Linked DNA regions of Homo sapiens. The protein of the gene in region 1 purifies or fractionates together with the protein of each later gene. This does not show direct contact. Each region holds a gene or a part of one and is shown in the gene's direction. Other genes may lie near its edges. The genes, in order: STC2, COL14A1 and PLS1.

What was found.
Region 2: the proteins of STC2 (region 1) and COL14A1 purify together in Homo sapiens (affinity purification with mass spectrometry; one large-scale study listed by BioGRID and IntAct). This does not show direct contact.
Region 3: the proteins of STC2 (region 1) and PLS1 purify together in Homo sapiens (affinity purification with mass spectrometry; one large-scale study listed by BioGRID and IntAct). This does not show direct contact.

Annotation. Positions count from the first base shown.
Region 1 is NC_000005.10:173,321,915-173,325,567, reverse strand, and holds part of STC2 (stanniocalcin-2 precursor), read left to right. Parts: intron 1-2,137; coding exon 2,138-2,349; intron 2,350-3,653. UniProt on the Homo sapiens protein: Has an anti-hypocalcemic action on calcium and phosphate homeostasis.
Region 2 is NC_000008.11:120,229,548-120,233,200, forward strand, and holds part of COL14A1 (collagen alpha-1(XIV) chain isoform 1 precursor), read left to right. Parts: intron 1-1,919; coding exon 1,920-2,071; intron 2,072-3,653. UniProt on the Homo sapiens protein: Plays an adhesive role by integrating collagen bundles. It is probably associated with the surface of interstitial collagen fibrils via COL1.
Region 3 is NC_000003.12:142,599,326-142,602,978, forward strand, and holds part of PLS1 (plastin-1), read left to right. Parts: intron 1-1,202; exon of another isoform or gene 1,203-1,421; intron 1,422-3,653. UniProt on the Homo sapiens protein: Actin-bundling protein. In the inner ear, it is required for stereocilia formation. Mediates liquid packing of actin filaments that is necessary for stereocilia to grow to their proper dimensions.

The DNA of each region.
Region 1 (3,653 bases):
CAGGGGCAGGAACCCCCAATTATACATTTCAGAAGTCATTTCACCTACTAGGAAAATGAGACACAAAGTATGTAGAAATCCGTCATGTGGTGTGTGGGCAGCCAACCCGAATAACTCAGGACCTCCAAAAGAGCAGACTTCTATTCCTCCTGAGTAGCAGATCTTTCTCTCCCAAGCTGACCGGTCGAAACCCTGATTGAGTCCTTCAGTTCCACACTTTCCTTTTGCTCTATATGATAAATATAGTCAGGGCCTGACCCACTTCGGTTATCCCAGGGTCCCAAGGGGAACGCGGAGTTGCTGCTCAGGGCAAGGCAGGAACACAACAAGCAACATATGGCTCCAGTGCCAACAACGCAAATACATTTTTAGATGGCATGTGGCATCAGACTCACCTTCTTCGTGTTCTCCCTGGCCACTTATATGCCCTGTTGAAACGCCCTGTTACTATATCTCAGAAACGTCTCTCCTGCTTCATTGGAGAGCAATGCCAACATTTGGAGGTGGCCATCAGCTTAGGTGAGATTTATGGATGTCACCAGTCCCCATCCACTGACATATAGTAGTGAGCCTGACAAAGCAGTGCCTGGGAACAAGGAGGGGAGGCGAAGACGGGGCTGGCAGCCTAAACTGCAGAGGATGTGCGGTGTGGCCAGAGGGGAAACTGAAACCAGGGAAGGAAAGAGGTAGAACTTTGAACTCCTTGAGGCTCCCTAATAAAGCATCACTCTGGATTAACGGGAATTAGGAAACGTAATAGGAAATCCGGAGGAAAGACGTGTATTTAAGGGCAATCCCACAGGATGTCAGGGAAGAATACCAAGAACAGATTGCCACAGCCCTCGCATAAATTCATCTTCCTCTTTTTTTTCCCAACCAACAGGAATACGTTCTCAAGTTAGAGACATCCCTTTCAAGTTGATGCTCAGCACATAACTGCTTAATAAACGGGCACACCCTGCCCTCCATTCTGTTTGGCTCTGGCTGGAGAGTCAAAAGAGAGGGGGCCACGGGGAGGCCATGCGGGCCACATGGTTTTTCAGAGATCAGACGCTATCTGTAGACATTTCTATGGCTGCTAAAGACAAAACCAAAATAAATGTGCTGGCTGGCTTCCCACTTCCAACCTAAACCCATTTACTTTCTCAACTCAGTGACTTCCGGGCCTGTCTAAAAACAGAGGGGTGACCTCTCCGACGACAGCTAGTTTCTATAGTAATGTGGGGTGCGGGGATTCCCGGGTAGGCATCCCACAATGCCTCCGGGCTGCGCGAGGTTGATAAGGGAGCAGCACCGAGCTCGCCTCCACACCCCCAACAGCTGTCTCCTTTCTAGGATAAGCACAATCAGACGGGGTTGCCAGGAAAGAGAACTGCAGGCCAGATGTATGCCTGGCTGCCTTCGCCACTCGGAGGCAGGGAGCGTGGGGGAGGGGCCGCCAGTGCGGCAGTTCAGACTCCAGATGCTGCCAGGCAGGGTGCCAGGCCAGCCTTTTAGAGGCAATAATCCGAACAGTTTAAAGGAGTAGAGTCATTTTCAAAAAGGAAAAGAGCGCTCTTCCTGGTAGGGTAGGAGGAGACAAGGGTATGGATTTGGGGCGTGGGAGGCACGGAGGCAGAAAGGGAGGTACAATCAGCAATCAATCTCGGTGTCGCCCCTGGAATCAAGGGAAAAAGGAAACGTGTGAGATTTGGACATGCAGGCACCTTCCACTTAGGGAAGACTGCTTGTGAGAACCGTGAGGGATTTATGGATTTGTGTCTGGCCAAATTCCCTTTGTGTTCCAGAAAAGTTGCCACCACACAACCAACACAGGGCTACCTGAGGGACACATAGCCACGGAAGCCCCCGTTGGAGGGAAACTCACAGAGTAGCCAGGGAGGAAGGAGGGAGATGTGTTCGTCTACAGAATGAACATCCCTTGTTGCCCAGTGCTGGGGGTGTCATGTCACTCTGGACGTGCCTCCGGATGTCGCATTGCCTGTCACCTGGGAGGACGTCCGTCTCTGGTGGGGCCTTGGGGTTCTGATGTCAGAAATATCCTGTGTAAGCCCAAGAAGGGCTGAAATGTCCAAGCATGTAACGAGGTCTTCTGCTTTCTGCCCCTCTCTCCCTTCCCCGGCCTGTGTGTTCTCAGGGCAAGTCATTCATCAAAGACGCCTTGAAATGTAAGGCCCACGCTCTGCGGCACAGGTTCGGCTGCATAAGCCGGAAGTGCCCGGCCATCAGGGAAATGGTGTCCCAGTTGCAGCGGGAATGCTACCTCAAGCACGACCTGTGCGCGGCTGCCCAGGAGAACACCCGGGTGATAGTGGAGATGATCCATTTCAAGGACTTGCTGCTGCACGAGTGAGTACTGCCCCGCAGAGGGCCTGGGTGAAGGGGCCACCCAGCAAGGATGGCAATGTGTATGGGAGGAGAGCCGCGTTGCTTCTAGAGGCTGAATGCCTGTCAAATGGAGAAGGCTTCCATTTACTTCAGAAAGCTACACTGACTCTACTAAAAGGCCCCTTTCCTGCTGGCTTTTAGGAAAAGAGAGAATTCCCTCATCAGTCTCAAAATCACAAGCAACAGAAATGGGAAATCGTTTTACTAAGAATGAAATGTGTCGATTCAGTAATACTCTTCATCTTCCCCTTAGCCAAGAACCCACTAGCTCTCAGAATATTCTGAGTAGCTGTAGAGGTGTCCTTACAGACAGCAAATTGCTAATAACATTTGTTGAATATTTACTAAGCGCCAGGCACTGGGCTAAGGGCTCCTTGTGAATTTTTCACTTGATCCTCACCACAGCCCTCGTCACCTCCATTTGACAGATGAGAAAACTGAGACTCACTAAGGCAGAGCTCACACAGCTAGTGACAGGCAAAGCCAGACTTGGGACCTGGCTCCAGTCTGCTGAGCAGTCTGCCTCCAGAACCTATACTCTTAAATCCCGAAAACAGAGCTATAGATGCTTTTCCTGCCTCCTTAACTTTCCTTTCCCTTAGAAGGTTCGGTTTACCTTCTCTCATACATTAGTGCCCTCTCAGAGGAAATGCAAAACAAGTGCCAAAAACTTTAATCAGCTAAACACTTCTATGCCAAAACAAGGAAATGTGAACTTACTTATTTCAAGACTTGAAATTCAATGATAAATTCAGGATGCATCATTTCTTACAAAATATTTCAGCCACAGGATCCTAAATTTTGCAGCATGGTAAAGCATGTTGGTACACAATTGTTCCTAACATGAGGCAGGGCCAGGAGCCCCTGAAGATTTTTTTTTTAAATATTGACAATGGCTCTTTCCTAAGAGACACAGGGCAGAAAGAAAGCCACTAGCCAACCAGTTCAGTACAAGTCATTACCAGTTTGATGGCACTGTTGGTCTCTCCACGGTGACTCATTGAGCCAAATCGGTATAATTTTATGAACTCTTGATCCTCAGTTTGTGCCACAACCTTCTTCCAGTTATGTCCCTACCACACCAACACCACTTAGATGACAGAGAACAGCAAGCACCTCCTGTCTCTTTCCACTTGGTTATAAGGTCATAGGCATCTTGCAACACCCTTGCTACAGTGTTAGAATCATACAATTCATGGCGAAACTCTGCAGGAAGCTCTTGCCAAAAGCAAAACAATATTGCATTTTCCTCGAATTAGGCTAAC
Region 2 (3,653 bases), on another chromosome or scaffold:
CGTGAATAGTGCCACAATAAACATACATGTGCACGTGTCTTTATAGCAGCATGATTTATAGTCCTTTGGGTATATACCCAGTAATGGGATGGCTGGGTCAAATGGTATTGCTAGTTCTAGATCCCTGAGGAATCGCCACACTGTCTTCCACAATGATTGAACTAGTTTACAGTCCCACCAACAGTGTAAAAGTGTTCCTATTTCTCCACATCCTCTCCAGCACCTGTTGTTTCCTGACTTTTTAATGATTGCCATTCTAACTGGTGTGAGATGGTATCTCATTGTGGTTTTGATTTGCACTTCTGTTGCTCTCTGTTGAGAATTCCCCTTCTTTTCTCTTTTTTTCTTTTAGAGACAGGGTTTCATTCTGTCATCCAGGCTGGAGTGCAGCACCACGATCAAGGCTCACCACAGCCTTGACTTCCTGGGCTCATGTGATCCTCCAGCCTCAGCCCCCCACGTAGCTGGGACTACAGACATGTGTCATCGTGCCTGGCTAATCGTTTTGAATTTTAGTAGAGATGAGGTCTTTCCATATTACCCAGGCTGGTCTTTAACTCCTGAGCTCAAATGTTCCTTCATCCTTGGCCTCCCAAAGTTCTGGAATTGCAGGCATGAGCCACCATGCCTGGCCTTGTTGAGAATTATTCTTACCATGTTTTCCTTGCATTTCTGTGGGTAACTGACACTTGGCTGGTCTATTGTTTTTCCTACATTAGTTGTTTCCTCTCTCAGCTTAGCTTTCCCCTTCACTGTAATACACCTCCCAACTAGCTGTCAGAGTCAACTTGGTAAAACACAAGTTTGATAATATCATTTATTTACTTCTCTAAGACACTTCAATGGCTCTCCATTACCCATTTGTTGATTTGTTCATTCTTCATTTAATCCTTATCAAGCCTTCTTTGTGCTTTAAAGTCTTTTTCACAGCATCCAAGATCCTTCCTAGTTGGGTCCTGCTTCCCTTCCTGGCCTCAACCATATTTCCTATGCTTCCCCCGTTTTTCTCTTGCAATCCCGAACTCCTTTCCCTAAATGTGAGAAGTTCCCTCCCATTCCCATTGCCTGGTAGCCCCCCTGCAATGTTGCCAGGTAAATGTCAACCCCCTCCTCCTCTGTGACACTTTTACTATTTTTGTTGAGTTAATAACTATATAAAAACCAAAGCCCTAACAGTCTGACACACAGAAAAAGTTCAATGAATATTTTCTAAATGAATTAATAGATGAATGAAGAGAAAGGAGAATGAGAAAAGATGGACAAAGGGAAATGAAGTTAGGGTAGAAGAGAAAAGAAAAAAATGCAACAAATAAGGGAGCAGGCACCTTGAGAGATGAGCACGAATGTGCCAGGAAACACAGGTAAAGGAGTTTGGACAAGTACCAGAGAAAAGATCGTGTCTGTGTGGGCTGAATGGATAAAGGCAGCCTGAGCGCAGATTTGTGCTTTGAATGACAGGTGTTAAAAGAGAAATGGAGGTGAGGGCAGGTGATTGGGATGTGTGTTGGATGCTGGATTGCACACAGAGGTGGACAAAGTCTGGCCCACTGTGCCCACTTGTCCACAGAGCACTAGTGTGAGGTTCTCATGACCACTCTTTCCTTTGGGTTCCATGGGCTGTTTTTCTAGTCTCAGGGCTTCTTCCCAGTTCTCTTTACTAGTGCACATACAGAACTGACAGTTTTGAGGGCTCCATGGTCTCATCTTGTAAGCATCTCTTAATTCCACTTTTATTTGCTGCTAGTAGGTATCATGCCTCCCCATTAAGCACCATAGCTGAGCCCTTCTTGCCTCATATACAACTATATTACAGGGATACATTAAATGATGCTTGCTGTCACCCCACAGGTATTCTCTGTGGCTCATTTTGGAATATGATATGTTAAAAGTTTTTTAATCCTTGGTTGTGTTTATTCCAGTTTTCCAGACGGGAATCAGAAACCTAGTTGTAGGTGATGAAACTACTTCTAGCCTGCGGGTAAAATGGGACATTTCTGACAGCGATGTGCAGCAGTTTAGGGTGACCTACATGACAGCTCAAGGGGACCCTGAGGAAGAAGTCATAGGAACGGTCTGTATAAATTCAACTGACTAGAAACTCTGCAGATGTTACTAACACAGCTAATAAGACTGTCTTCGGAGATCAATGCAAACTTTACTGCTCTTTTCTCAGTGACTCTGCCATCTCCAGAAACTAATGTTCTCTGTTAATCTGACTCCACTACTGGCTTCTTAGTGACCTTTATAAATCCAAAACTTGCTCCATGTACAACTTGCTCCAAGTTAATAACCTCTGAACATTGTTTCAAATATTGCTTCTCTTCTGCTGCCTTGCACCTGTTCGAGCACCAAAGTTGGGTCATAAAAGGCCATATGCACTTGTGTCTGTATATATGTATGTATAGACATGTATAAAAGTTTAATATAGAAAATAATTTCTTCTGCCCTTGGAAATCTGATAAAAAAACTTTTAAGCAAAGGACACAGAAAAGGTCTTCTATATGGTATAGTGAAAATATTCTTAATAAAATACCATCCGTTAACCAATAGTTATATTTTTCATTGACATCAACTCGTATTGAGTAGATTTATAGTCATTTCTAATTATTCGTAACATGGATGTATCCCCTCAGGGATTTAGATTTTTATACATTGAGTTTTCTTTGAGTTGTTTTATCTATCTTTCCTTTTTCTAAATGATACACTCTTTTTTTCTAATTTATTTATCTTTTTTTAATATACTTAAGTTCTGGGATACATGTGCAGAACATGCAGGTTTTTTACATAGGTATACATGGACCATGGTAGTTTGCTGCACCCATCAACCCGTCATCTACATTAAGTATTTCTCCTAATGCTATCCCTCCCCTTGCCCCACAACCCCAACAGGACCCAGTGTGTAATGTTCCCCTCCCTGTGTCCATGTGTTCTCATTGTTCAACTCCCACTTATGAGTGAGAACATGTAGTGTTTGGTTGCCTGTTCCTGTGTTAGTTTGCAGAGAATGATGGTTTCCAGCTTCATCCATGTCCCTGCAAAGGACATGAACTCATCCTTTTTTATGGCTGCATAGTATTCCATGGTGTATATGTGCCACATTTTCTTTATCCAGTCTATCATTGATGGGCATTTGGGCTGGTTCCAAGTCTTTGCTATTGTGAGTAGTGCTGCAATAAACATGTGTGGATGTATTGTTATAGTAGAATGATTTATAATGCTTTGGGTATACACCCAGTAATGGGATTGCTGGGTCAAATGGTATTTCTAGTTCTAGGTCTTTGAGGAATCGCTACACTGCCTTCCACAATGGTTGAGCTAATTTACAGTCTCACCAACAGTGTAAAAGTGTTCCTATTTCTCCACATCCTCTCTAGCATCTGTTGTTTCCTGACTTTTTAATGATTGCCGTTCTAACTGGCATGAGATGATATCTCATTGTGGTTTTGATTTGAGTTTTTCTAATGACCAACGATGATGAGCTTTTTTTCATATGTTTGTTGGCTGCATAAATGTATTCTTTTGAGAAAGTGACTGTTAATATCCTTCTCCCACTTTTTGATGGAGTTGTTTGTTTTTTTCTTGTAAATTGGTTTAAGTTCCTTGTAGGTTCTGGATATTAGCCATTTGTCAGATGAGTAGATTGCAAAAATTTT
Region 3 (3,653 bases), on another chromosome or scaffold:
TTTTTTTTTTTTTTTTTTTTTTGAGATGGAGTCTCGCTCTGTCGCCCAGGCTGGAGTGCAGTGGCGCAATCTCGGCTCACTGCAAGCTCCGCTTCCCAGGTTCACGCCATTCTCCTGCCTCAGCCTCCCGAGTAGCTGGGACTACAGGCGCCCGCCACCGCGCCCGGCTAATTTTTTGTATTTTTAGTAGAGACGGGGTTTCACCTTGTTAGCCAGGATGGTCTCGATCTCCTGACCTCATGATCCACCCGCCTCGGCCTCCCAAAGTGCTGGGATTACAGGCGTGAGCCACCGCGCCCGGCCAGATATTCTTAACTAAGCTAGTTAGTGGGATAGCCAGAAGCTCTGTTCAAATTTCCTCATTACTAGACCCAAGCTCTTTTCATTAACTATTACTTTTTGAGGTTGTTGGCCCCACGATTATTTTTATTTATTTATTTATTTTTTGAGACAGGGTCCCACTCTGTCACCCAGGCTGGAGTGCAGTGGCACGATCACTGCTCACTGCAGCCTTGACCTCCCCGGGCTCAAGTGATCCTTCCCACCTCAGCCTCCCAAGTAGCTGTGGCCACAGGCACGTGCCACCATGCGTGGCTAATTTTGTATTTTTTTGTGTTTAGAGATGGGGTCTCACTATTTTTCCCAGGCTGGTCTTGAATTCTTTGGCCTGCCTCAGCCTCCCAATGTGTTAGGATTACAGGCCTGAGCCACCATGCTCAGCCTCCCAAGATTAATTTGAGTTGGTAGCAAGACACTCCAGTTCAAGATGTTCTGTGGACTGAAAGCCCTCAGAAACCAATCTAAGGGGGAAATTTGGTGGTCGATGAGAGAATGTGTGTGTCATCGGAAGAGGTGAAACACAAGGCTGCTGGCCAGTTCAAGGTTGAGTGTACACAGTGAGGAGGGAGTGAGGCTGGGGTCCTAGGAATCTTCACACTGGGGAGTTGAAGTCTGGAAAGGTCATGGTAGCTTAGCTTGTCAGAGGCAGACACAAATGGGTTGGCCCAAAGTCCTTGGGACTGAGAGTCTATTTCCTAGATATATTGTACACTACCAGGAGGTGGTGAGCAATGGCTTTGGAGAGGGTAGGCCAGGTGCAGTGAGGGTAGGCCAGGAGGGTGGCACCAAAGGGTGGTGTTTATGACCCAAGAACATGGGGGTGAGGTAAGGCTGAGAGAGAGACAATTGTGATCAGATTCTACCTGGAAAAACAAGACAGAAAGCAGTGCTGCTGAATCCAAACTTCCAGTTCAAGAGGTGGTTTGGAATATTTGTTTACTTGGAACAGATGTTGCATTTTGCAAATCATAGCCATTTTGCAAATCAAAACACAGCCTTTCCATTGAGCTGCACACAGCGATGAGGGAGCTGTTGGATGCCACATCCTTGCCATTGACTTGCACACTGTGGTTGACCACCATCTTCATATTTCCACAGGCAACGATGGTCCATTAAAAATGTCAAGGAGAGAGAGAGCAGTTGAGAGGAGAGACAGAACAAATGAGCTTGAGAAATGGCTAGCAGTGGGGAAGGGAAGGGTTGGCCTGGTTTCATATATATATATATATATATATATATATATATATATATATTTTTTTTTTTTTTTTTTTTTTTTTGAGACGGAGTCTCGCTCTGTGGCCCAGGCGGGAGTGCAGTGGCGCAATCTCGGCTCACTGCAAGCTCCGCCTCCCGGGTTCACGCCATTCTCCTGCCTCAGCCTCCCGAGTAGCTGGGACTACAGGCACCCGCCACCACGCCCGGCTAATTTTTTTTTTATTTTTAGTAGAGACGGGGTTTCACTGTGTTAGCCAGGATGGTCTCGATCTCCTGACCTCGTGATCCGCCCGCCTTGGCCTCCCAAAGTGCTGGGATTACAAGCATGAGCCACCGCGCCCGGCCTATATTTTTTATATATATATGTTTTTCATGATGACGTTAGTGAAAATTGATTAGGCAGATGCAAAATCAGGTAGTATGTTGAAGTTAATGTCTCATACACTTAAATGTCCAAATATTAAATCCTAGAATTTACCATGGCCCTTTGTAAAATGACAAATATCTTTCTTAAAATAATAATAGTAATATTAGTAACTAGTATTACAGAATATCTTCCATGAACCAGGCACTATACTAAATACAAGTAATATATCATTTCATCTTTATAAACCATCCTGTGAGATAGGTGCAACAATTACTCATTTATTTTTAATTTTTATTTTTTAAAAACAGGGTTTCAGTCTGTCACCCAATCTGGAGTGGAATGGCACAGTCATAACTCACTGTAACCTTGAACTCCTGGGCTCAAGCAGTCCTCCCGCCTCAGCCTCCCAGGTGTGGACCAACGTGCCCGGCTTATTAAAAAAAATTTTTTTATAGTGATAAGGTCTTGCTATGTTGTCTAGGCTGATCTCAAACTTTTAGCCTCAAGCAATCCTCCCACCTCAGCTTCCCGAAGCCCTGAGATTACAGGCATGAACCACTGCACCTGACCTACCCTCATTTTCTAGATGAGAAAATTGAGGCTTAGAGAGATAGATAAAAGCATTTATCTGAGGTCATATAGTTTACAAGTGGCTGAGCTGAGATTTGACCCCAGGCCTATCTGACTTTATACACTGAGCGCTCAAATAACTTAATCAAATATCTTAACAAAAATGCAAAGCTCTTTCTGAGGTAACTCTAACAGATGCTTAGAATAGCCACAGGTTTCAGCTGGTGGAACCACCAACATTCTTTGAGCCACATTTAAAAAAACCAAAACAACAGTGGTAAATCGTTCCGGTTTTTTTTTTTTTTCATTCCACTTAGTCTTTATCTCCTTTTCTCTTGAAGCATTCCTAGAGAAAGGGACAGCAGCTTTTTCTCTGGGTACACCATTAAAGCCACTTCTGATCTGCTCCCACCCTCTTTTGGGGTGGAGCTGTGATTGGGGAGTGAGTTGGTGGTCATCCAGGGCGTGTCTGTGGAGTTGGCAATGGGAAACTGGGAAGCTCACCTTGTGTAGGAGCCTAAGAACTCTGGAGTGACCAGGTATAAGGATTTCTTTCCCTGGGGTGTCAGGATCCACTGCTGGAAGCTCCTGGAATATCTATGGATCATGACTCTAATCTTAGGCCTTTGAACTATGGCCATAAACCCCCAGGAAGAATCCAGGTGTGAACACATTCTCCCCCAATTTTTAAGATTGGGGAGTTGTGAAGTCCCTGTGGACTAATTGGAGGTGGGTGTGGATACCTCAGGAAAGGCCCCAGGTCAAAGACAAATAATTTAAAGGCCCCCCCCACCCCATAGGCCCCAGCTTTGACCTGTGAGAAAATGTGCTCCTCTCCCTCCTCTTGATGAACCTAATTACATAGAGAACTTACTCTCCTGGGAGTCTCAAAATGGAACTCAGCTGAGAGCGTGCTTCCCTCCCTTGCTGCCTGAGCTCTCTTTCCATTTCCTGGTTCTGCTTTACCTTCCCCTGAGTGGTTCTGTGTTCCCAGGATATGAAAGGCAGGGCCGCAGCTTCTGGCTTCACCGGGCTAATTTTTGTATTTTTAGTAGAGTCGGGGTTTCACCATGTTGGCCAGGCTGGTCGCCAACTCCTGACCTCAAGTGACTCGCCCGCCTCAGCCTCCCAAAGTGTTGAGGCTGAGGCCACCTCTGGCCCT